Linked DNA regions of Homo sapiens: region 2 is linked to region 1. Evidence: fine-mapped expression QTL. A gene starts in region 1. The other region holds a variant in brackets. All regions are shown on one strand. Distances are from middle to middle.

The links. PIP is the estimated chance that this variant, and not a neighbour inherited with it, causes the effect.
Region 2: its variant is fine-mapped to the expression of HDAC8 in whole blood (TOPMed, PIP above 0.99). The same link has a PIP of 0.9 or more in cerebellum and thyroid.

What each region holds. Positions count from the first base shown.
Region 1 is chrX:72,567,300-72,579,699 of GRCh38, reverse strand. HDAC8 (histone deacetylase 8) reads left to right here and starts at 6,857. Exons shown (of 11, transcript NM_018486.3): 1 at 6,857-7,049; 2 at 7,591-7,643; 3 at 10,816-10,946; 4 at 11,670-11,811. The coding sequence starts at 6,939. PHKA1 (phosphorylase kinase regulatory subunit alpha 1) reads left to right here. Exons shown (of 32, transcript NM_002637.4): 32 at 1-886. RefSeq lists an enhancer at 6,765-6,894.
Region 2 is chrX:72,323,326-72,335,725 of GRCh38, reverse strand. It overlaps HDAC8 (histone deacetylase 8), which reads left to right. Exons shown (of 11, transcript NM_018486.3): 11 at 5,650-6,210. The coding sequence ends at 5,672. Among named protein-coding and RNA genes, the nearest start is that of CITED1, 24 kb to the right of the region's middle. The variant C/G (reference allele first, on the strand shown) is at 6,064.

The sequences.
Region 1 (12,400 bases):
TTGATGTGTCTGTATATCAATCTGTATCTACATTTGATGGACTGAGTAAGAATGTTGCATGTGAGAGAAGGGATGTGACTGTGGACTCAGATTGACACACACAGATTGGTGGAAGAATAGCTTCAGTCCTCTTCCTTCATCCCATATGTAGGTAGCCTTGCTTGACAAATGTTTCTTCTAACTCTCCTTCTTCTGAATTGTGCAGAGACTCTGTTAACTTCCCTTTTTGCACTTAGATAACTTCCTACTTCAACCCCCTCCTTTATCTTGGATTTCTAAAGTTTTTCCCCAATATTGGGAATGGTGAGGGTGGGGATGAGAGACTCTCTGAACAATTCTTGCAGAACCAGTGACAATCTTATGAATATAATGAATAAGTAAGCATATAGTAGGGTGATAGAATACAGATAGTAGAAACAAAGAGAGGACAGCAAACCTTTTCAGCACTTCTCTCAGAGCAAATGGAAACACACAGTAAGTAGCTTTCTGACTACATTATTTTCTGGTCACTTTTAAAGAAAGTTTACAACCTGTTCTGAAACTATTTGTCTTTTCACTGGTTGTAAGTGTACCCCAATCTCAGGGAGTATATCTGTAGTGCCACAGGCAAAAGATCCACTCCTTCCCACACTCATTTGCCTGAACTTACTCGAAGGGCTGCATTTCTCTGAGTTTACGAAATTGTGTCATTATGGTCCCCATACAGTGGTATTTAACTTTTAAAGCAACTTTTAAGAAAACTCGACTTGTTTTTTGTTCATTTTAAGTGTGTGGTACTAAAAAGACATGTTAGACTTTTTTTAAAAAAGCACTTATGTTTTGAAAATAGAATAAATAATAAGAATTTCCAATTAAATCATGTCTGGTGCCAATGTGCAAAACTTCACATGTGTTTTTGTGATTGGAGTTTATTTCATGGCTTTATTCTACATACTCTGCTTAATTATACAGTACAGTCAAAGCTCATTCATTGGGTTGAAGTAGAATAATATTAATATATTAATACATATATAATATATTATACATTTCATAATATGTTAGATAATATATGTAAAGAAATGCAGTTTAATCATTCAAATACATACCCACTCAAACAAGGCTTACTAAATTCAAGCGGGCTTATTGACATCTGTAGGGAACATTTTCTTTTCTTTTCTTTTCTTTTCTTTTCTTTTCTTTTCTTTTCTTTTCTTTTCTTTTCTTTTCTTTTTTTTTTTTTTTAAGACGGAGTCTTGCTCTATCGCCCAGGCTGGAGTGCAGTGGGGTGATCTCGGCTCACTGCAACCGCTGCCTCCCGGATTCAAGCGATTCTCCTGTCTCAGCCTCCCGAGTAGCTGGGATTACAGGCATGCGCCACCACACCCAGCTAATTTTTTTTGTATTTCTAGTAGAGACGGGGTTTCACCATGTTGGCCAGTCTGGTCTCAAACTCCTGATCTCAGGTGATCCGCCTGCCTCAGCCTCCCAAAGTGCTGGGATTACACTCGTGAGCCACCGCGCCTGGCCTGTAGGGAACATTTTCTGATGAATGAGTAAAACATTTTTACTCAGCCTTTCAATTGTGTACAAATGGTGCTTCTTCCCTAATGAAGGGTATTTTAAAACAACTTGTTTTTCTAAATATTAAAAATATTTGGCAGAATCTTGTTTGTTTATACTATTCATTAGCCTTTTCTATAACAGGATTTATCCAGCAAGGATGAACATTGTCTCTACAGTTCCATCCTGGTTAATGAAATTTTACTACATTCTGGGAATCTTACACAACTGGTGGGGCAAAAGTTGTTCTTCACCACAGCTGGCAAAACCTCTGCCATTCCTTTTTCTACTTACCAAGTACCTAGTGTCTGCACTAATGCAGTGGAGATTATTTTCCACATGTAGTCTTCATTTCCTTTTTATTTATTTAATTTTAAAAAAATACAGCCATCAATTTTTATTCTTATATTTGGTAGACATTCATTTCCTTTTTAACTTGAGTAACCTCAGGTGTTGGTTTGTCCAGGGCAGCCCCCATTTATGCCTGTTTTACTGGCATAATTATCAATAGCACTGTGTCACTCTCAAAAAATGTCTCAGTTTGAAAGATATGGTCACCCTATATTTAGCAGATGTGTGATTTCTTTTAAGGCTAAGCCAAAAAACCAAGAACTTATTCTCAAACCACTAGTAGTACTTGTGCAGTAGTGGTATGGGGGTAAGGATGACAGTAGGGGGAAACTCCCTTCCCCACCAAATATAGAAATATTTGGCATAATGGCTCTTAAATAACCAATATTTGAGCACATACCAAATGCCATTGTTATATAGGCACTTAGCGTGAGCCATTTTATCTTCACAATTGCCATGTAAGATAGATACTGCCATCTTACAAGTAAGCTACCTGAGGCACTGAGGGTTTAAGTAAATTGCCCCAAATCAATCATCTAATAAGTGATAGAGCTGGAAGTTGAACCCATGCAGTCTGACGCTAGCGATCACATTCTCAACAATGACACTCTCCAAGGAAAATGACATTAAGGGGGTGGTGTGACAAGGGTCAGTTGAAGACAGTTGAAGTGTCACTGGACAGATAGTGAAATGAGCAGAGAAGACTCTGCTCATTCACTGAAGGGTGGTGCCCTTGTAATGTGTTTGCCTCCCCTTCTGGGGAAAAGCAGGGGAAAGCACCAAAAAAATATGGCACAGCCCAACCTGAACTTACCGGTTCGAATGTTACTTTTAGCAATAATGATTGAGGAAAGTGAGTCAAGTAACTTGCCCTGGGTCACCACCCTAGCAAGCTTTGAAGCCAAGATTCAACCTACTTCCTGTGACCTCAAGTCCTCCAACTGCAAATAAAGTGCATTGAGAAGGGTTTTCTTCCCAGTTTAAGAACCATATGGGTGTTACGAATGTGGAAAATTGAGGTGAGGGACCTGTGGCATGATGTGTGCTCTTTCTTAACCATGAGCAAGCGTCTAGCCGCCCTTTGAGATTAGCTGCAGGAATAGGTTGCCAATTCCAGAGCATTGTGCAACAATTTATCTTTCTCCATAGCTGAATCATCTTGCCACATTGCATGGGGTACTTGGATAGTGTTTCCAGTTTAGAGCCATTCAGCTATTTGTTACTAGATCAGAAAGGACACATGAAACAATACCTTTTCATGTCATCCAAGAAGAGTCCAGAATTTAGGGTATCAGTTGGCCAGTCTATCTCCTGCCCTCTTTCCGCTGCCTATCCCTGAAGGCCCAGAACAAGTCTCATTTCTCCTTATGTTGCCCGTCATCATGATCTCACCTTTCAGTCAACTCCTGTAGCTTCTCCTGTCTATAAACATGTGCAGTTTTCTCTTATCTTAAAAAAATTTCTGGGCTCCGACGTCCCCTCAAGCTGTTAGACTAACTCCTTCCTTTCACAATCACATTTTTTCAAAGAGGAAGCTACACTTAACTGTGTTGGCTTCACTTCTTAAACCCCCACAATCTGGCTTCCTCCCCACCTCCTGTTTTGTTTTGTTCCATAGGGCACCAGTGAATTTCTAATGACAAAAAGGGGTCTTTGACCATTCCTTGTCTTCTTTCTGACATCTTTTTCTCCTCTAAACTCTTACACACAGGCATTTCCAAAAATGACACTCTTCTTCCTAGCTCAGAGGTCTTCACCAGAGTCTGGGGCAGGTTTTGTGACATGATCTGATTTACTTTTTTTTGGAGGTTCACTCTGGTGGCTGCAAAGATAATGGGTTGTAAGGCAGCAAGAATGGAAGCAACGCCCAGGTTGATACTGCAGAAAGTCTAAGTGAGAGATAATAGTATCCAGACTAGAGTGGTGGCAGTACAGAGTGAGAGAAGTGAATGTATTTAAGGCATGTCTTGGACATAGAACCAATGGAAATTTCTGATGGACTGGATCTGCAGGTGAAGGAAAGGAAGAAACACAAATAACTCCCAGGTTTCTGACTTAGGCAACTGGATAGATGTTGATATCTTTACTGAGCTATGAAAGATAGAAAAGGAGTGGAAAGAACTTGGGTGGGGAAATTGGGAGCTTGGTTTTGAAAATGTTGTTGGATATGACTGTTAGGCATCCCAGTGGAGAAAGCCACATCCCTTGCCTAGCTCAGCCACTCTTATGACTTCAGTTTTCTCCTCTTTATATGGAAAAGTGTGTGTGTGTGTATCACTGCAATTGTTTAACCCACTAATTTCTGAAACACTTTTCAACACTTTTAAAATCAGAATCTATGTCTATTCTGCCCTACTGTATGAGTTCTTCCTCCCGATTGCCCTCTTTCTTATATTGCTACCTCTAGTCTTTTCTTTACCCAGAGTTTACATTTAAGAGTTTTCAGCAACCCTTTTCCATCTTCCTCCCTCTCACCAATATCCAAGTAATAAAAAAGTCCTGTTGAACCTACCCTGTACATTATTTCTCCTTTGTTCCCATTGCCCCCACCCTAGTTTAAAATCATTATCACTTCTTATTTGGACCATTGTGGCACTCTAACTGCCCCTAGCCTTTTAATGACTAATCTTTCCTACACACTGCTGCTATAGAAATCTTTTTTCCTTACTATTTCTGTCTAAATATGTTTTCCCATTTCCCACAGAATGTAGTCTATTCTCTTTAGCCTGGTATTCAATGTTCTTCATGATCTGGCCCTTTTAGCTAAACTCGACTAGAAATTTTCCCTTTTGTGTTACTGTTTATGCTGTTCATTCTAGTCAGCATGCCCTCTCCTGGCTCCCATCTTCACCAAGCAAAATCTTGCCCACCTCCTAAGACCCTCTCAAATGCCATCAAAGATGAATTCTAGTTACCATTTATTAAATGCCAGTTATTTAGTACTTAATGCTTATTTATTAAGTAGGCTAAGCATCCTACATTCATTGACTCTGCATTGCCTTTGGTTTCTTGTGTACTTGCCCCATCTTCTGTATAAGAATGCAAATTCTGGCTGGGCGCGGTGGCTCACACTTGTAATCCCAGCACTTTGGGAGGCCGAGGCGGGCGGATCACGAGGTCAGGAGATAGAGACCACGGTGAAACCCCGTCTCTACTAAAAATAAAAAAATTAGCTGGGCGTGGTGGCGGGCGCCTGTAGTCCCAGCTACTTGGACAGGCTGAGGCAGGAGAATGGCATGAACCCGGGAGGCGGAGCTTGCAGCGAGAGGAGATCGCGCCACGGCACTCCAGCCTGGGCGACAGAGCAAGACTCCTCTGTCTCAAAAAAAAAAAAAAAAAAAAAAAGAATGCAAATTCCTTGAGAGCAGAGATCACATCATAATTTACCTTTGAATCCTCAGCTGTACTGTACACTTAATATCAGATAAATGTTTGATGAATGAATGACTGCAGAGCTTTTAACTAGTTACTATGGGAAGACATAAATTAAAGAAACATAAGATCTTACATTCTAGTTACAGAGCACATCACCAAAACACCCCCAAGATTTTCAGAATAAGTATTGAAGGGATACAAAATGGAGGGTGAACAAAGTTATATCATAACACAAAGTCATCCTGGACGAATCAAGTTTATATAATAAAGGGAATGTTCAAAGGCTTCAGTGTCAGGCTGACCTAATTTTGAATTCCTACTTATCTGCTTGTTAAGTATGTGATTTTGAATGTTGTTTCTCTAAACTGCATCTGTAAAATGGGTGTATTGCAACCTCCTTTATAGGACTGTTGCAAGGATGAAATGAGATAATATGGCCAATGTGCATGTCACAATCTTCAATAAATGTTTAAAGTCTAAAAAGCAAGCCAGACTTTAAATATAGTAAGGATATTAGGTTGTCCCAGTGGTGTTAGTCAGTCAGTTTAGGTTGCCATGAGAATTAAGATCCTGAGCACTGGCCAGCTTGTATCAGATCATAGGGGCCTCCAGGAACCTCCAAATGCTGATGGTAATTCTAAAACCGCCTCAGATAGTCTTAAACTGGACCCTCACACCAAACCTAAAATATTTCCCTAATCTATGTTTAGCTGCAGAAACAAGAGGAGGTAGGAGGAGAAGAGCTGCAGTTTCCAAACACCACTGCTTGCAACCTTCCTACCACATGAATGTTCAAGGAGTTACATTTGACATCATTGCTTGATCGGAATCTACCAAGCAATTTCCACTGCACCAGCCAGTCTCTTGGGAAAGTACTATCAGATTTGCCAGAGTAAATTATTGAGATTGTTAACTCTCATGTGGACATGGATAGTTAATGATGAAAAGAAATGAACTATAAAATTGCATCACAGAATTTACTGTGTAAACTTTTCAAACCATTTGTGCCATTAAATAGCGCCCCCACCAAAAAAAAAAAAAAAAAAAAAAAGCCTATCCTTAGGATAGGCAGCTGATGTAGCTGGATGGTGGGGGCTCTAGGTGGCCACGTTCTATCTGTGTTTATATGGTTAAATGGATGAAATGGATGTGTTTGCAGATTGAAACAATTCATAAAGAGTTGAGGCTACTTTTTTTTTTTTTTTTTTTTGGTCTTAGCGCTGAAACTAAAAATCGCGGTTATTTTAGTGTTTAGCCCCGGCTCTTCCGTTGCTCAAACCTCCGGAAACTACATCTCCCAGCATGCTGTGAAACTGGTCTGACTTCATCTCAAATGGCCCCGTAGGGCAACAAGGATGGTTAGTTTTGACCCTACTTATTTGTGCCATAAAAACAATCGATCCTAATTGACAGCTATTTGGACTTTTACATCTGCCAAACCCTTTTCCTTGAACTGTGGTCACTAAATGAGGGGAGTCTGGTCTGGGAAGTCCCATCCATTCCTTCAATAGGATGGGGAGCGGTGATAGTGTCTCCGGCGATCTCAAGAATAGGAGGGAATGTTGACCAGGGAGCACCGCTGCGGCCGATCAGAGGAGCAGGAACTGGAACCCTGGCCGAGTCCGAAAAAAGCCAGATCTGGAAGGTGGCTGCGGAACGGTTTTAAGCGGAAGATGGAGGAGCCGGAGGAACCGGCGGACAGTGGGCAGTCGCTGGTCCCGGTTTATATCTATAGTCCCGAGTATGTCAGTATGTGTGACTCCCTGGCCAAGATCCCCAAACGGGTAAGGGAAGTCGGGATGAAAGACCATGGGCTTTGGGGGTGGGGGTGGGGGCGGTGGACGAAAGAGCGTTAGGAAGCGGAGAGGACACTGGGCTGGGGGAAATCTTCAGAAATTTCGAGTAGCTGTATCAGATACCTAAAGCTGTATCAGAAGGAAGTGTTCTCATATCGTTTCTGAGAGCGCAGCATGTCTCTTCGGGACGTCCAATGGACAGGTAGGAGTGGGGGAGGGGGTACGGAGGAGGGGAGAGGACGCAGTTTCCACTCATAGGGGACCGCTGAAGTCGTGGGAAAACAAGCTGCAGGGGGAAGGTGTTCCATCACCTGCCTAAGGCCCGGTAGCTTTCACCTTAGTGATTTTGATACTTTGTATCTGTATTGTCTAAAGTGTATTGTAACTGTTAACAGAAGGGAAGCCAGTTGAAACAAAATTAATCCGTTCCTTTGTTCAGGATGGTGAGATTGACGGGGATTTTGCTGAATTAAACTTTAAAGAGACTATTTCTGCTTTTCTTTTTTTTTTTTTACGCTGATGTTTTTAGGCCAGTATGGTGCATTCTTTGATTGAAGCATATGCACTGCATAAGCAGATGAGGTAAGTTGTCTTTCTTGAACATAGCCCTGAAGCTAGGTGTTCGTAGCCTTAATATCCTGCTTCACAGTGGGGCAAGGAAAAGAATGGTCTTTTGAAAAAATTATTTTAGCTTTCTGTGAAAGTATTCACAGTGTTTGTAATCTGCCTGTAATCCCAAGAAAGCTCTTGAAGAATTAAGAAAACTTGGGGGGCCGAGAGCATGGCTCACGCCTGTAATCCCAGCACTTTGGGAGGCCTAGGTGGGTGGATCGCCTGAGGTCAGTAATTTGAGACCAGCCTGCCCAACATGGCAAAACCCCGTCTCTACTAAAAATACAAAAAAATTAGCCGGACGTGGTAGCGGGCGCCTGTAATCCCAGCTACTCGGGAGGCTGAGGCAGGAGAATCGCTTGAACCCCGGAGGTGAAGGTTGCAGTGAGCCGAGATTGCACCATTGCACTGCAGCCTGGGCAACAAGAGTGAAACTCCGTCTCAAAAAAAAAAAAAAAAAAAAAAAAAAAAAAGAAAGAAAGAAAGAAAAAGAAAAGAAAACTTGGGACAGGGGAGTGGAAAGTGCAGGAAGCAGTTAAGGTTCATTAGAAATACAGCTCGATTGCTTGGTTAAGTATCCCAGGGGTAGGTGCAGTGCATTGTGGAGATTTTGAGTACATTTGGGTATTAAAACCTGTCTCATACAAAAAGGTGTTCAGCTAGGAGGTGTTCCATTTTTCTTTTGATTTCGTTTCATTCTAAGCCAGATTTGAGGGTGTGAGTTCAACCTAAGACTTTTAGACAACCCACCACCAGCACCAAACTTTAATGGGTGAGGCTGGAGACAGATCAAGACCAAAGAAGGCCGGGCGTGGTGGCTCACGCCTGTAATCCTAGTACTTTGGGAGGCTGAGGCAGGCGGATCATGAGCTCAGGAGATCAAGACCATCCTGGCTAACACGGTGAAACCCCGTCTCTACTAAAAATACAAAAAATTAGCCGGGCGTGGTGGCAGGCGCCTGTAGTCCCAGCTACTCGGGAGGCTGAGGCAGGAGAATGGTGTGAACCCGAGAGGCGGAGCTTGCAGTGAGCCGAGATTGCGCCACTGCACCCCAGCCTGGGTGACAGAGTGAGACTCCGTCTCAAAAAACAAACAAACAAAAAAGACCAAAGAAAACTGCCAAGACTGCGCCAGAACTCAAGAGAGAGCTAACTGTTTCTTCCAAAAACATGAACTTGCTGTTTATTGCCATTTCTGTATTTGATGTCGTTATAAGAGCAAATATAACCCTGCCACATATAGGATTACTTATGACAATTTCTGGCCAAATAGGTGAGTGCTCATACCAACTAGTGTGCTATGCTTCATTTATCTCCCAGAAGGTAGTGTAATAATAGGCTTTCAGATTTTATCCTTATTATTAACAAAATCATTTTGTACCTTTTAAAGGGAATTTTTAAGCCTTTTTTTTTTTTTTTTGATGGAGTCTTGCTTTGTCGCGCAGGCTGGAGTGCAGTGGCGCGATCTCGGCTCATTGCAACCTCCGCCTCCCAGGTTCAAGCGATTCTCCTGCCTCAGCCTCCCGAGTAGCTGGGACTACAGGCACGTGTCACCACACCCATTTTAAGCCATTTTTTAACCCATATGGTTTGGTTAACATAGTAACTATATGCCTTCCATTAAAGTTATTTAACATTTCAAAAAATTATTTTATGACAAACAAGATATCAAAGCAAAGCAAAACTGTCCAGTTTGCTTACTGTTAAATAGGGAGGTTTTCAGTAAGTGTTTTTTAACATTTACCAAAATAAATGGAAGGGTACTAGAAGAGGGAGCTTTTAGGACTGGGAAATACGGTCCGAGATATTACAAAATTTTTATTTTAATGGGTAGATTTTTCACCTCTGGTGGTATAGATTTGTCTTCTTTAAGAAGAAGCAAGAATTCTTGGGTCTTGGCTATGTATTTCACTTTTGAGGCCAAACCACAGGATTTCTTCCAGCTACCTTGGTGATAGTAGTAGCCTGTATAGTCGTATTCATTCATCGTAAACTCATGGCTGTGTTCCCATTCAGCAGACATTTAAAACCACTGCTGCCTCCCTGTGGCCCAGGTCAGGGCTCCTTCAACTTGAATGTGTATATGAATCACCTTAAAATGTGTCATCTTGTTTAAAAATCATCATGTTAAAATACAAATTCTGACTCAGGTCTGAGGCAAGTCTGAAGTTCTGCATTTCTAACAAGCACCCAGGGAATGCTGATGCTCCTGGTCTATGGACCACCCTTTAAGTGGCAAGGGCTAGAGAACAGTAGTGGCAGCTGTGGGGTCAAGAAGAGGAAATGGGGAATAGGCAGCTAGAGGTTAGATGTGGTAAGGCCTCTTATTGGGTTAGCTCCCTTTATTCCCTCACTCGCTTCTATTTGTCATTTTTCGTGAGGAGTAGGTTGAGAGGTTCTGAGTGAAGTCCGGTTCCAACCATTTTGCCCCTTCTCGCCTCGCTCTCAGAGGCAGATAGGAGGGTCCAAGTCTAGAAACATTACATTTTGGGTTGCCCATTTTTTATCTGTTAATAGAATGATAGTTATCCACCAAGCATTTTTGTATGTGTTATCCTTTTATCTTCACATAAGTCCCATAAAGTTCCCCATTTTACAAATAAGAAAACTGAACTACAGAACAGTTGACTTATCTGAGGTTATAGAGCTAGTAAGTACAGAATTAGGACAGGAACCCAATTCTCTGACTCCAAATCTGACTCCAAATTCAAAATGCATGATAACATAGCTGCCTATTAAAATAAAGATATAGCTGAAAGGATTAGATAGCCCAATTCGCAACTGGTTCAAATGAAAATATCCCTGCCTACTAGTTTGTCCTGAAAGTTGTAACTCACAGGGTAAAGTCTGTCTGATACCTGATTATTTGTTTAACTTGAATATAATTACTTTTGTTTACTTACCTATAAACTCAAGGGAAAATCTATCTTCTTGCCCCTTATTAATAGAGTCACTACTGTAGATGTGAGGCAGTGAAGACCGCACAGTGCAGTGGAAGAACAGAATATGTTTATTACTCCAGCCTATTGGAACCAGAAGTTGAGACGTATTTTCTTCTCAGACTGCTGGCTTCTGTTTCTAGCTTCTGGCATACGCTGGGTCTGACTCACTGACCTCTCTTTGTTCTCTCTGTTATTATTAGGATAGTTAAGCCTAAAGTGGCCTCCATGGAGGAGATGGCCACCTTCCACACTGATGCTTATCTGCAGCATCTCCAGAAGGTCAGCCAAGAGGGCGATGATGATCATCCGGACTCCATAGAATATGGGCTAGGTAAAGTCATTACCAGGCAGTGATGGGAGATGGACAGACTAATTTTTTTTATAACTTGTATGATTTTTTTAATATTTTTCGTTAAGAAATCATGTGTTAACTGTCAATCTTAATCTTTTGGTTTAGCCACATATAACTCACTAAACAAGCAAACCATATGAGTTGAGCAAAACCACATGAAGGGTTAGATGAAAGAAAACCTTTCAGTTGCTTATGCCCTACTGGCAGTGCTCAGATCTGGTCTGGCTGTGTATATGCTGATTTAGCTGTCCTGTGACCTTATATTTTAACTGGAGTACAGATTTATGTTCTGGCTAAGTTTTTGTACCTCACCCCTCATTAAACAGCTGCATTTTTTAAAACTGTAAGTGACCTGCAGGATAGTCTAGAAAAACAGCATGGTTTAGCAGAGGAACATTGAACTGGGGGGTCAACAGAGCTGGGTCCCAAGCCTGGCTCTGTGTGACCACTGACAAGACACATCACCTCTCAGGCTTGGTTTCTCTATCTGTAGCCTGTGACTAGTTCATCAGGAGGGTTTATCCTTTCTAGCTCTAACCTTTTAAAATATTATATCCCCAACATTGGAGTTGTTTCTGTCTCAGTTGGAGCTGATATTAGCACAGTGGCTTTTTAGTAGGTTAGGTTGTTGTCACACCTCAACCTATTCCTCCTCTTTTTCCAGTTCACCTTTTAACCAGCTCTTCTGATTTTTGCCCTAAGGTTATGACTGCCCAGCCACTGAAGGGATATTTGACTATGCAGCAGCTATAGGAGGGGCTACGATCACAGCTGCCCAATGCCTGATTGACGGAATGTGCAAAGTAGCAATTAACTGGTCTGGAGGGTGGCATCATGCAAAGAAGTAAGAAAATGACCTTTCTGTTTTCTGACTCTTTCCTTGAGTCAGTTTCTCAGTTATGTAAACTCTTATGCTTATTGTATTGACATTTACAGAGAGACGTGTGTGTATGTGGCACTTTACAAGGCATTCTGAAGAAATCCAAGTGAAATAGAAAAAAGATTACCTAATATAGTGGAAAGCACACTGCTCAAAGTCAGGACACCTGGGCTCTACACCTAGTTTTTCTAACTTGGCTAACTGACTTGGACTGATTACCCTCCCTAGGCCTCAGTTTCTTCATCAATAAAATGAACAAAGGATACAACTAGACAGTCTCTAAATTCCTTTTCGGCTTTCTAGAAATTCCCCTGTCTTCGAGGGACTTACAGTCTAGAAACATTAACAAAATTAGAATAGAGAACAACATTAGTTATGGTACCAATGGAATATATGTATGAGCTGAAGAGACTTATCAGTAGAAAGAAATTAATCATGGAAGTCTTGGCAGAAGTGAATTTTAGAGCTAGTTCTTAAAAGAAGTGGCAAACAGATTTTTAAAAAGGTGGAAAATTGACGCTAATAGGTTTAAAACAAAAGGCTGAAGAATCAA
Region 2 (12,400 bases), 240 kb after region 1:
TTGCCCAGGCTAGTCTTGAACTCCTGGCCTCAAGTGATCCTCCCGCCTCAGCCTCCCAAAACACTGGGATTACAGGCATGAGCCACTGTGCCCAGCCCTGCACAAAAATGTTTATAGCAGCTTTATTCAGAATTGCCAAAACTTGGAAGCAACCAAGATGTCTTGCAATAGGTGAATGGATAAACCCGTTGTACATCCAGACAATGGACTATTATTCAGCACTAAGAAAAAATGAGCTATCAAACCACAAAAAGACATGGAGGAAACTTAAATGCATCTTGAAAGAAGCCAGTCCAAAAAGGTTACATACTGTTTGATTCTAACCATATGACTGTAAAAAGATGATGGTTGCCGGGCTTCAGTGAAAGGAAGGGAGGGATGAGTCCATGGAACACAGGTGATTTTGAGGGCAGTGAAACTATTCCTGCATGATACTCTAATGGTGGATACATAACATTATATACTTTTCAAAACTCATAGAACTGTGCAAGACCAAAAGCGAATCTTAACGTAAACAGTGGACTTAAGTTAATGATAATGTATCAGTATCCATTCACTAACTATAATAAATGTATCACACTAATGCAAGATGTTAATAATAGGGGAAACTGCCTGTAGGGGAAGGGGAAGGAAATATATGAGAGCTCTCTGTACTTTCTCTTCAGTTTTTCTATAAACTTAAAACTGTTCTAAAAGTAAAATATATTAATTTAAAAAAGAAAGACTAAAGAGATTGTTCATCAACACCTAACAAAATACCTGGCACAGAGTAGACACGCCATAAATGTTTATTGAATAAATTGATAAACAAATGAGTCAACCAGTGGTTCAGTAGAACCCAGGCCCCCTGAGTCCCAGTTCAGTACTCCTTCTTGTACATCAGAGCTAGAGTAACAGTATAGTTTATTGTCCAAACCAGGATATTTGAGAGTGAAATGGGGTGCCTTAGGTATAAATCAAGACTGTTTCAGAGATAACCAGAAATCACAAACTGGCAGTCCATAAGCTACATCTCGCCTCCAAAATTGTTCTGTTTGGCCACTCATCTTAATGCCTCATATGATATTCTTTTAAAATGTCAGTCATTTGCCCAAATTTAACACAGTGGAAACTGCATAAAAATGTGAAATTTGGACTTCTCTTGGAAAATGGAAGGACTCGGTCCCATGGGGCCGACAGGACTGCACAGTGGTGAGTGGCTGGAGCTGAGCAGCAGCTGCCCACTTTTGCCAGCAGGTACCTTCCTCTTTGCCACAAGCCCCACCAGTCCCTTTTGTATCTCTTACTCTAGGCCAAGTGTGAGTTTCCATTTACACTGTCTTGGTTTTGTTTTCTTCTGTGGCAGAGTTAAGAAAAAAGGGAAATATTTCTTACACTTATGTCATGATTCAAAGTAAGAAAATGAAAAAAGGATCAAGAGGGCCCCTTGTGTCTTGCCCCCAGCCTGCTTTACAAACAGTATATTCTTGGCCTCTCTAGGCAGTTGAGTCTGCCCGCTGTGGTCTGAACTTCTTGTCTCCCTAGGCCCCAGCCTGTGCTAGCCTTTAGAATTTTCTCAGGCTGCCACCCACTGCTGGAAAAGCTAGATGTGAGGGGAAAACAATGGGCATTATTTAAGCTTGCATTTTTATTGTTACCCCAATTCAACATTGCTCATCATCAACTTCTTGGTGAAAATTATTTCTGTTGTTTTTCTTAATTGCCTCCAAATTTAACTGGAGAGTGAGGCAGAGCAGCAGAGGAGTACAGCACCCACCTTTCCTCCCTGCGAACATGTCTTGTTGGAATGCTTTGACATGGAATTTTGTTCATCCTTGCATTCAGTCATTCCCCTAGCTCTGGCTATACTTACAGATGGAAGGACTCTCACTTCACACCAGTGTCCCCTGTAGGTTGTCCTCAGCTGAGGCAACAACACAAGCGAAGGTGTGGAAACAGGAAAGCATGGATGGGGCCCATTTACGCTAAGGAGTTGGACTTCATTCATAGGTGGTAGGTCGGGAACTGCTAAAGTCTTTTTTTTTTTTTTTTTTTTGAAATGGTGTCTCGCTCTGTCACCCAGGCTGGAGTGCAATGGCACCATCTCGGCTCACTACAACCTCCACCTCCCAGGTTCAAGCGATTCTCCTGCCTCAGCCTCCCCAGTAGCTGGGGTTACAGGCGCCCACCACCACACCTGGCTAATTTTTTTGTATTTTTAGTAGAGACGAGGTTTCACCATGTTGGTCAGGCTGGTCTCAAACTCCTGACCTCAGGTGATGCATCCACCTCAGCCTCCCAGAGCGCTGGGATTACAGGCATGAGCCACCACGCCCAGCCTGCTGAAGTCTTTTTGAGCAGAGAAGGAATGTGATCACAGCTAGCAATTGTGCAGGGAATAGCTCTAGAAGCAGGAGGACCAGATAAGAGGTTGTCGCAGTGACCTGAGTAACAAGAGATGTGACTAAAGCAGAGACAGTGGAACAGAAAGAAGGGGATAGATTGGAGAGACATCTTGAGGTTAGGCTTCACAACTCATAAGATGTGGAGAAGGCGTGAACTAAGAAATTAAGGATCAAAGATTATCCAGAGATTTTTTTGAGGTTAGGGGGTTGAAATACCAAAAGCATGATCCAAAAAAAGAAAAAAAATTGATAAGGAATTGGAGCTCATCAAAATCAACTTTTGCTTTACAAAAGACCCTGTTAAGGGAATGAAAAGATAAGTTACATACTGAGATAAGATATTTGCAAATCATATATCCCACAACAGATTTGTATCTAAAATATATAAAGGGCTGGGTGCAGTGGCTCACACCTGTAATCCCAGCACTTTGGGAGGCTGAGGCGGGTGGATTATTTGAGGTCAGGAGTTTGAGACCAGCTTGGCCAACATGGTGAGATCCCCTCTCTACTAAAAATACAAAAATTAGTCGAGCATGGTGGCACATGCCTGTAATCCCAGCTACTAGGGAGGCTGAGGTAGGAGAATCGCTTGAACCCAGGAGGCGGAGTTTGCAGTGAGCCGAGATCGCACCACTGCACTCCAGCCTGGGTGACAGAGTGAGACTGTGTCTCAAAAAATAAAAATAAAAAATATATATAAAGAACTTTCCAAACTCAACAGAAAAAAAAAAAAACAATTAGGAAGTAGGCAAAAGACAAGACATGAAAAGGATATACAGTCAGCAAATGAGCACATGAAAAGATGTTCAACATCATTAGCCATTGGGAAAATGCAAATTGAGATCACAATGTGATATCACTATACATCTATCAGAATGGCCAAAATAAAAACCAACACCAGATGCCAGCAAGAATGCTGAGAAACCAGATGACTCAAACATTGCTGGAGGGAAAGTAAAATGGTACCACCAGTCTGGAAAACAGTTTGGCAATTTCTTATAAAGCTAAACATGCTACTACCATACCTCCCAGCAATTATTCTGTTGAGCATTTGTCCCAGAAAAATGAAAACTATGTTCACACAAAAACCTGTATGTGAATGTTCATAGTGGCTTGATTCTATAGCCAAAAACTGGAAATGACTCAGGTGTCCTTCAGCAGATAAGTAGTTAAACAGATTGTGCTACATCCATACTGTGGAGTACTACTCAGCAAAAAGAAGCAACAAACTTGATACACACCACAACTTGGATGGATCTTAAGAGCAGTATGCTGAGTGAAAAAAGCCTATCTATCTCAAAAGTTTATATACTGTATGGTTCCATTTCTATAACATTCTCAAAATGACCAAATTTTAGAGAAGGATAACAGATGAATGGTTGTTGGGACTTAGGGATGGTGAAGGAGGAGGGATGGGAATGACTGTAAAGGAGGTAGAGGAGGGAAATCTTTGTGGTGATAAAATAGTTTCGCATCTTGATTGTGGTTGAGGTTACATGAATCTACACTTGCGATTAAATGGCCTAGAATTATACACTTATACACACACAAATGAGTGCTTGTAAAACTAGTGACATATTAATAAGATCTGTGAATTGTACCAATGTCAATTTCCTGACTTGGATATTGAACAGTAATTATGTAAGATGTTAACATGTGGGGAAACCTGGGGAAGGGTGTGTAGAACCTCTCTGCACTATTTTTTTTTTGCAGCTTCCTGTTATTCTATAATTATTTTAAAAGTAAGAGCTCAGTACAAAAAAGGAATGAACTTCTATTGATACATGCACAAATCTGCATGAACCTCAAAGGCATTATGCTGAGTAAAAAAATAAAATAGCCTATCTTAAAAGGTTACAGACTGTTTGATTGCATTTATATGGCATTCTCAAAAAGACAACACTACAGTGATGGAGAACAGATCAGTGCTTGCTAGGTGTGGGGGAGAAAGGAAGATGTGATTGCAAAAGGATAGCACAAGGAGATTTGAGGGGTTATGGAACTCCTCTCTGTCATGAATCTATACATATGTTTAAAATCAGATCTGCACATGCACAAATGTCAATTTTACTGCAGAATAAAATTTAAAATAAAAGTAGATAGGCAAGGCCGGGCATACCTGTAATCCCAGCACTTTGGGAGGCCGAGTCGGGTGGATCACGAGATCAAGAGATCGAGACCATCCTGGCCAGCATGGTGAAACCCCATCTCTACTAAAAATACAAAAATTAGCTGGGCATGGTGGCACACACCTGTAGTCATAGTTACTCGGGAGGCTGAGGCAGGAGAATTGCTTGAACCCGGGAGATTGCAGTGAGCCGAGACCGCGCCATTGTACGACAGCCTGGGCAACAAGAGCAAAACTCCATCTCAAAAAAAAAAAAAAAAAAAAAAAGATAGGCAAGTAGTTTGTTTCTGACTTGTTTCTTCTTTCCTTCCTTCCTTTCATTCGTCCATTCATTCAGCCATTTACTGAGCACCTACTATGAGTGAGGCACTGTGCAAGACTTTGGAAATCAACCAAAAGTAAGACAGCCAGGCCCTGCCCTCAGGGAGCATTGTTTCTGTTTCAGAGAAGTGGCCAGTAGGGTTTGGAGCCCAGTGTTTCTACTTGGGGAAGTGTGGCAAGGCAAAGACTACGGAGGGACAAAGTGAGCAACTTTTCATTCCTAGAGCCCAGTCCGGTAGGATTTCAAATGATCACTTTTCCCTCAAAGACTCTTAGGCCTGAGATCAGAGGAAAGCCCCCAATCCGTGTTTCACAGGTACTCACAAGAGAAAATGCTAGGAGGGTTGTGCCTTGCTAAGGGAAGGAAGAAAAGTTGGGGGTGGGGAGCATGAGATTTGATGCAGTTAGTAAAGAATGAACTCTGAAAAGTGTTACGAGAGAGAGAGAGAGACTTAAAACAACCATTTGTTTAGCTCATGACTCTATAGATTGGCAATTGAGCTGAGTTCAGCTGGGTGGCTCTTCTGGTTCTGGCTGGATACACCCAGCATCTGCAGTCAGCTGGCTGTCAAAGGCCTCGATCACATGTCCAGTAATTGGCTGGTGGTTGCCTGGGTGACAGGGATCTCTGGGCCATTTGTTTCTCATCATCCAGCAAGCTATTCTGGTCTTGTTCCTTATGGCGAGGTCACAGAGTTCCCAAGAGCAGCAGAGAATAAGCCCCAAAATATAAGTGCTTTTTAAAAAATAGCTCTATTGGGGTATAATTCACATACATTACCTGACTTTGAATTTTGTTTTCTCCCCTGTTTGCAGGGAATCTGAAGCATGTGGTCTAGTTGACAGAAAGAGATCAGGTTTCCAGAGCTGAGGAGTGGTGCCTATAATGAAGACAGCGTGTTTATGCAAGCAGTTTGTGGAATTTGTGACTGCAGGGAAAATTTGAAAGAAATTACTTCCTGAAAATTTCCAAGGGGCATCAAGTGGCAGCTGGCTTCCTGGGGTGAAGAGGCAGGCACCCCAGAGTCCTCAACTGGACCTAGGGGAAGAAGGAGATATCCCACATTTAAAGTTCTTATTTAAAAAAACACACACACACAAATGAAATTTTTAATCTTTGAAAATTATTTTTAAGCGAATTGGGGAGGGGAGTATTTTAATCATCTTAAATGAAACAGATCAGAAGCTGGATGAGAGCAGTCACCAGTTTGTAGGGCAGGAGGCAGCTGA[C/G]AGGCAGGGTTTGGGCCTCAGGACCATCCAGGTGGAGCCCTGGGAGAGAGGGTACTGATCAGCAGACTGGGAGGTGGGGAGAAGTCCGCTGGTGTTGTTTTAGTGTTATATATCTTTGGTTTTTTTAATAAAATCTTTGAAAACCTACCTCTTTGTCCCGTTGTCTTCATTGTAAAGCGCCACTGACAGCACACACAGTTCTGAACTTTTCTTCTCGCTGAAGTGTCAAGAATAACCCTGTTCCTTCCAATCTCTACTCTGGCCCGGCTTGAGAGTCTGACCTCACTGGGGAACTAGTGTGTCCCTAGCCCAAGTTCTTGGGACAGAAGGCCAAGCTCTGTGTTGCACTGGGGCTGTCCATGGTGGGGTAGGAATACTGGCACTGCAGTCATGGAGAGGGGCTTATTGGCACCCTGGGGAGGAGCTGTCCCTGTCCAGGGAGTGATTTAGGGATGGAAAAGGTGTGTTGGCATGTCAGATCCAAGAGGAGCACTTCCATGGATAGAAAGGATGCTTCCCAGTAGACAATTGGCACATAATGAAAAGGGGAGGAAGTTGTAATGTGTGGTGTTACTGCAACCTCTGGGGAGTTGGCAACATGGAAAAATGGGGATGGGAGATAATGGGAGAGATGAGGAAGAGACAACTAAATGTCATGATATTGTAATTTTATTTACCAAATATTTACAAAGCTCCTTCAACTAACTACTGGGACCGGGACGGCAGACAAGCACACAGCCCCATCCATCCTGGCTGTCTAGGAATTCCCAGACAAGGCAAGGGAGGAGAAAAAGAAGCAGATCCCAACATGTTTCCAGCTCTGTTATCAACATGAGCTCAGAGCTGTGGGAGCACATTTCTACTTTTCAGTATTTTCCAAATTTTCTGTAGTGGGCACATTTTACTTTAATAATAGAAAAAAATAAATACATAAACCCCAAAAAAAAAAAAGAAACAATTGATCCGCGGGGAGTTAGGGGGTAGTTACAGATCAAAGTCAGTTCAAGACACCCACTGAGGAAGACTTTGTGCTCAGGCCCTGGGGCTGTTCTAATTGCCTGGAAGACCGATCAGTGGGGGCGATGGCGGGGAGGGGGATGCGGGGGAGGGGGATGCTTTTTAGATCAGTTGGCTTGAGGGTGGGGCAAATTTGTCCCCACCATAAGCCTGCCTGTCTTACCTTTAGGAAATTGCTGCCGACCCCGCCACCACCCACCCCTTGTGTCTGCAAGGGACCAGCCACAATAACTATAACAACAATGGTAAAGCAAGCATTGGCATATGCCCCATTTTACAGATCATTTTCACTTGTACGTCACTATCCACCCTGCTAGTGGGTATTATCATCCCCACTCTATAGATTAGAAAATTGAGGCTAAGAATGATGAAGTAACATGCCCCTTTTTAAGTGGCAGAGCCAGGAAGAAAAACCCGGCTGGAACTGCAAATTCCCTTACTTTTTCCACTGTCCCACACTAGTGCCACTAGAATATTTTTAAACTGTGACTTTGAAGTAAACAACTTTCTTACTGCTTCCAAAGCCCAAGCTGGACCAAGCCACATGCTGCTTCTGGGCCCTCACCACACAGTAGCATTCATTCGTTTGTGTGCTTTTCAGCAAGTTGCTTGACCTTTCTGGGTCTGTTTCCATACCCATAAAATGGGGTGAATAATTCTTGCACCTCATGGGCTATTGTGAGTGGTTGATGAATTACCAAAGATGGAAGCACTTTGAAAAGCGTGTATTCTGGACAGGAGGGCCTGCCTTGGAAATGGTCCAGGGAAGGCTCACCTCTGAGGAAAACCCAGTGCTTATAGGAAACCCACCAGCCCCCTCTGTCTCCAGGGCACTCACAAGGGCCAAAGAGACCAAGAAAGAAGTGTAGACTATGTCTCCAACTCAAGGGGTAAGAAAATAACCACTTAAAAAGGAATATCGATATTGGATATGCATATATGTGCATAAAACACCTTTGGGAAAATACACAAGGAACTGGGACACCTCAGTTGCCTCTGGGCAAGGGAACCAGATGGCAAGTGGCAGAGTGAGGGCGACCTGCACTCAGTTCCTTTTTGTACCTTTTGATTTTTGAACCATGTGAATGTATTACCTGGTCCCAAAAAAGTTAATACATAACATTTGTTTTTAAGTCAATGGAAAATTCCCACCAGTTTTCCTTTGGGGAGGGTGGATCTGCCTCTGCTGCATTCAATGTTAGCTGTCACAGAGACAGCAGTAGTATATTTCCAATTATATATTTAAAAGACTCTAAGGCAGAAAGACTTCTTTATAAGAAAATCAAATATTGTCATTCAACAAAAAAAAAAGGAAAAAGAGGAAGAGGAGAAGGAAAAGAAGGAGGAAGAGAAAAGCAGAAGAATGAAAGAAAACAACCACGTAAACAAGTGTGTTTTGACATCTCTAAGCCCCTATACAGAAAGCTCCTGCAGCTCCTCCTTCTCTGCATTTGCCAGGGGCAGATCCCCAAACCTCCTGCTCAGTGCTGGGCCCAAAGCTGACCGGTAGTGCCTTGGCATGCAACATAACACACTTCAGCCTCAGACTGCCTGAGTTTAAGCCTCTCCCTTCACTTACTAGCTGTGTGACCTTGGCCAAGTAACTCCCTCTCTCTGAGCCTTAGTCTTATTGTCTATCAAATGGCGACACTTACCTGTACCTACCTCATGGGGGTGGTTGCGAGGGACCAAAGAGATAATGCAGAAAAGCATGTAGTAGAGCGCATGTTATATATTAGTAGTAGACACTGTTCTTGCCCTAAATGTGAACACGCTGTGGGTAAGGAAACTTCCTGGGGTTCCCTGGCTTCAGGAATTAGGGAAATAGTATGCAAATTTGTGTGACTGTACATATGTACATTTTTCTGGGGCACAGAGCCATAGCTATTATCAGAGTCTCAACACTCAAAGGAGTTTTGTGATTACAAAAAGGATGAGATCTACAGACGTAGAGGTAAAGACAGACATAAATAGAGCTGTCTAAGACAGGGGCCCCTCACCTCATGATCTATGCACACGCTAGTCCTGCTTGGAATGCCCCAATCTTCCCTAGACTGGCTCCTTCTCCTCATTCAGTTGTCTGACTCAATTAAATACCCTAGGGCCGGGCCCGGAGGCTCACATCAGTAATCCCAACACTTTGAGAAGCCGAGGTGGGAGGATTGCTTGAGCCCAGGAGTTCCATACCAGCCTGGCCAACATGGCAAAACCCCATCTCTACTAAAAATACAAAAATGAGCTAGGCGTGGTGGCACATGCCTGTAGTACCAACTACTCAGGAGGCTGAGGCAGGAGGATGCCTTGAGCCCTGGAGGTCGAGGCAGCAGTGAGCCATGATTGCACCACTGCACTCCAGCCTGGGCAACAGAGCAAGACCCTGTCTCAAATAATAATAATAATATGGCTGGGTGTGGCGGCTCATGCCTGTAATCCCAACACTTTGGGAGGCAGAGGTTGGCCATTCACCTGAGGTCAGGACTTCGAGACCAACCTGGCCAACATGGCAAAACCCCGTCTTTACTAAAAATACAAAAAAATTAGCCAGACTTGGTGGCGCATGCTTGTAATCCCAGCTACTCAGGAAACTGAGGCAGGAAAATCGCTTGAACCCAAGAGATGGAGGTTGCAGTGAGCCAAGATTGTGTCACTGCACTCCAGCCTGGGTGACAGAGTGAGACTCTGTCTCAAAAAATTTAAAAAAACAGCCGGGTGCGGTGGCTCATGCCTGTAATCCCAGCACTTTGGGAGGCCGAGGCAGGTGGATCACCTGAGGTCAGGAGTTCAAGACCAGCCTGGCCAACATGGTGAAACCCCGTCTCTACTAAAAATACAAAAATTAGCTGGGTGTGATGGCGCATGCCTGTAATCCGAGCTACTCAGGAGGCTGAGGAAGGAGAATCGCTTGAACCCAGGAGGTGGAGGTCGCAGTGAGCCAAGGTCCGCGCCACTGCACTCCAGCCTGCTCGACGGGAGCAAGACTCCATCTCAAAAAAAAATAAATTAAATAAATAAATAAGTTATAATAATAATACTGTGACCACCCTACCCTAACTAAAGTAGCCATCTTGTCCTGGCAATCCCCAGATACCATCTATCATTTATCATTATCTATTTCTCTCTCCTCCTCTCTCTCTCTTTTTCTTTCTTTTTTTTTTTTTTTTTTTTTTTTTTTTGAGATGGAGTCTCACTCTGTCGCCCAGGCTGGAGTGCAGTGGCACAGTCTCAGCTCACTGCAAGCTCCGCCTCCCCCAGGTTCACGCCATTCTCCTGCCTCAGCCTCCCGAGTAGCTGGGACTACAGGCGCCCGCCACCACGCTCGGCTAATTTTTTGTATTTTTAGTAGAGACGGGGTTTCACCATGTTAGCCAGGATGGTCTCGATCTCCTGACCTCGTGATCCGCCCGCCTCAGCCTCCCAAAGTGCTGGGATTACAGGTGTGAGCCACCGCGCCCAGTCTCCTCTCTCTCTCTCTCTCAATACATACTTAGAGAATGGTAGAACTATGTAATAAGACAGAGCAATGCCTTATTCTAGGTATTATTAACACAGAGGAGGAGACAAGCAATCTAGACTGGGGCAACCATGAAGGCTACAAGCAGGCGGTGACACTCAAGCTGAATCTTGGGCCAGGCATGGGAGGAGGCATTCCAGGCAAAGGGACTGGAATACATGAAGGCAAGAAGGCACAGGAAATTTAGGGAAGCAATAAGCAGCTTGGTGTTGCTGGAACACAGGATATTTGACGGTATCCAAGCAAACCAACTGTAAAAAGATGTTATTAAAACAATGAGGGAACATTGGACAGGTTATGTTAAGAAATTATTGATAATTTTGTTAAGTACAATAACAGCATGGTGGTTATATACACATATATTTTATATCCTCATCTTATAGAGAGATAAAGAGAAGTATTTATAGATGAACTGTATCTGGATGCTCCAGAGGAGGAAAATGTATATGGAGGGTGGGGAGGGAGGGGGACGTGGGTAAAACAAAATTTTAAAATGTTGATCACTGTTAAAGTGGATTGAATGAAAATATGGGAGTTGATTATATAGTCTCTCTGGTTTTGTGGTTTTTCAATTTTCATAATAAAACATTAAAATCTATATTGGTGAGTTGCTGCAAGTAAAGATAGCAGGGACCAGATCACAAAGGGCTTCCTGTGCCAGGTTGGGGGGCTGGGCTTGAGCCTGCAGGTAAGGACGCCATCAGAGTTTTAAGCCAAGGAGTGGTCTGATCAGATTTGCATTCTGAAAAGCTCGCTCTGGCTACTGTGTGGACAAAAAAATAAATAAATAATAAGGAGCCTGGTAAGGCCCAGCTCCAAAGTGACTGCCTGTGAGAAGCCTCTGTTTACCTCAGATGGAGTCCTGGCACCTTCCTCCTTTGGCCCACTATGCCTTTCTCCTAACCACTTACTTGGTAAGAGAATGTGTGTGTGTGTTTGTGTGTGTGTGTGTGTGTGTGTGTGTGTGTGTGTAATGAAATATTTCCCCTCAATATATGCTTCAGGTAAAAACTTTCAGATAATACAGATAATGGTTCCCTCATATCCCTATACTTCAGTGATAACCACTATTGGCAATTTAGTGTTTTTCTTTCCAGACTTTTTTTCATTTGCTCCATAAATATTATTGAGCACCTACTATGTGCCATGCAGCGTGCCAGGCACTAGGGTTACATCTGTGTACAAACAGACAACGATCTCTGTCTCAATGGAGCTGGCATTATGCATATATGACCATTTGACTTTTATGTAAATGAAATGAAACTGTTCTGCAACCTGATTTTTCTTTCACTTAATTATACGCCGTGGACAGCTTTCCATATCAATCTAGAAACAGCTACTTTATTCATCTTCCATTATAACATATGCCAGACATACCAAAAAGGAAGGCACACCTGATGCTTGAAATGATCCTATTATATGGATGCTTCAAAATTTGTTTAACCTGTCCCCTATTGCTCAACATTCAGAATTTTCTCAATTTTCCTTACAAATAAAAACACTGCACAACAACAACCACTAGAGCTAATAAATGAATTCAGCAAAGTAGCAGGGTACAAGGTTAACCAAAAAAAATCCATTGTGTTTCTATACATCAACAATGAATAATCCGAAAAGGAAATTTAAAAAACGGTTCTGGCCAGGCGCGGTGGCTCACGCCTATAATCCCAGCACTTTGGGAGGCTGAGGTGGGCAGATCACGAGGTCAGGAGATCGAGACCATCCTGGCTAACAAGGTGAAACCCCGTCTCTACTAAAAATACAAAAAATTAGCCAGGCGTGGTGGCACGCACCTGTAGTCCCAGCTAC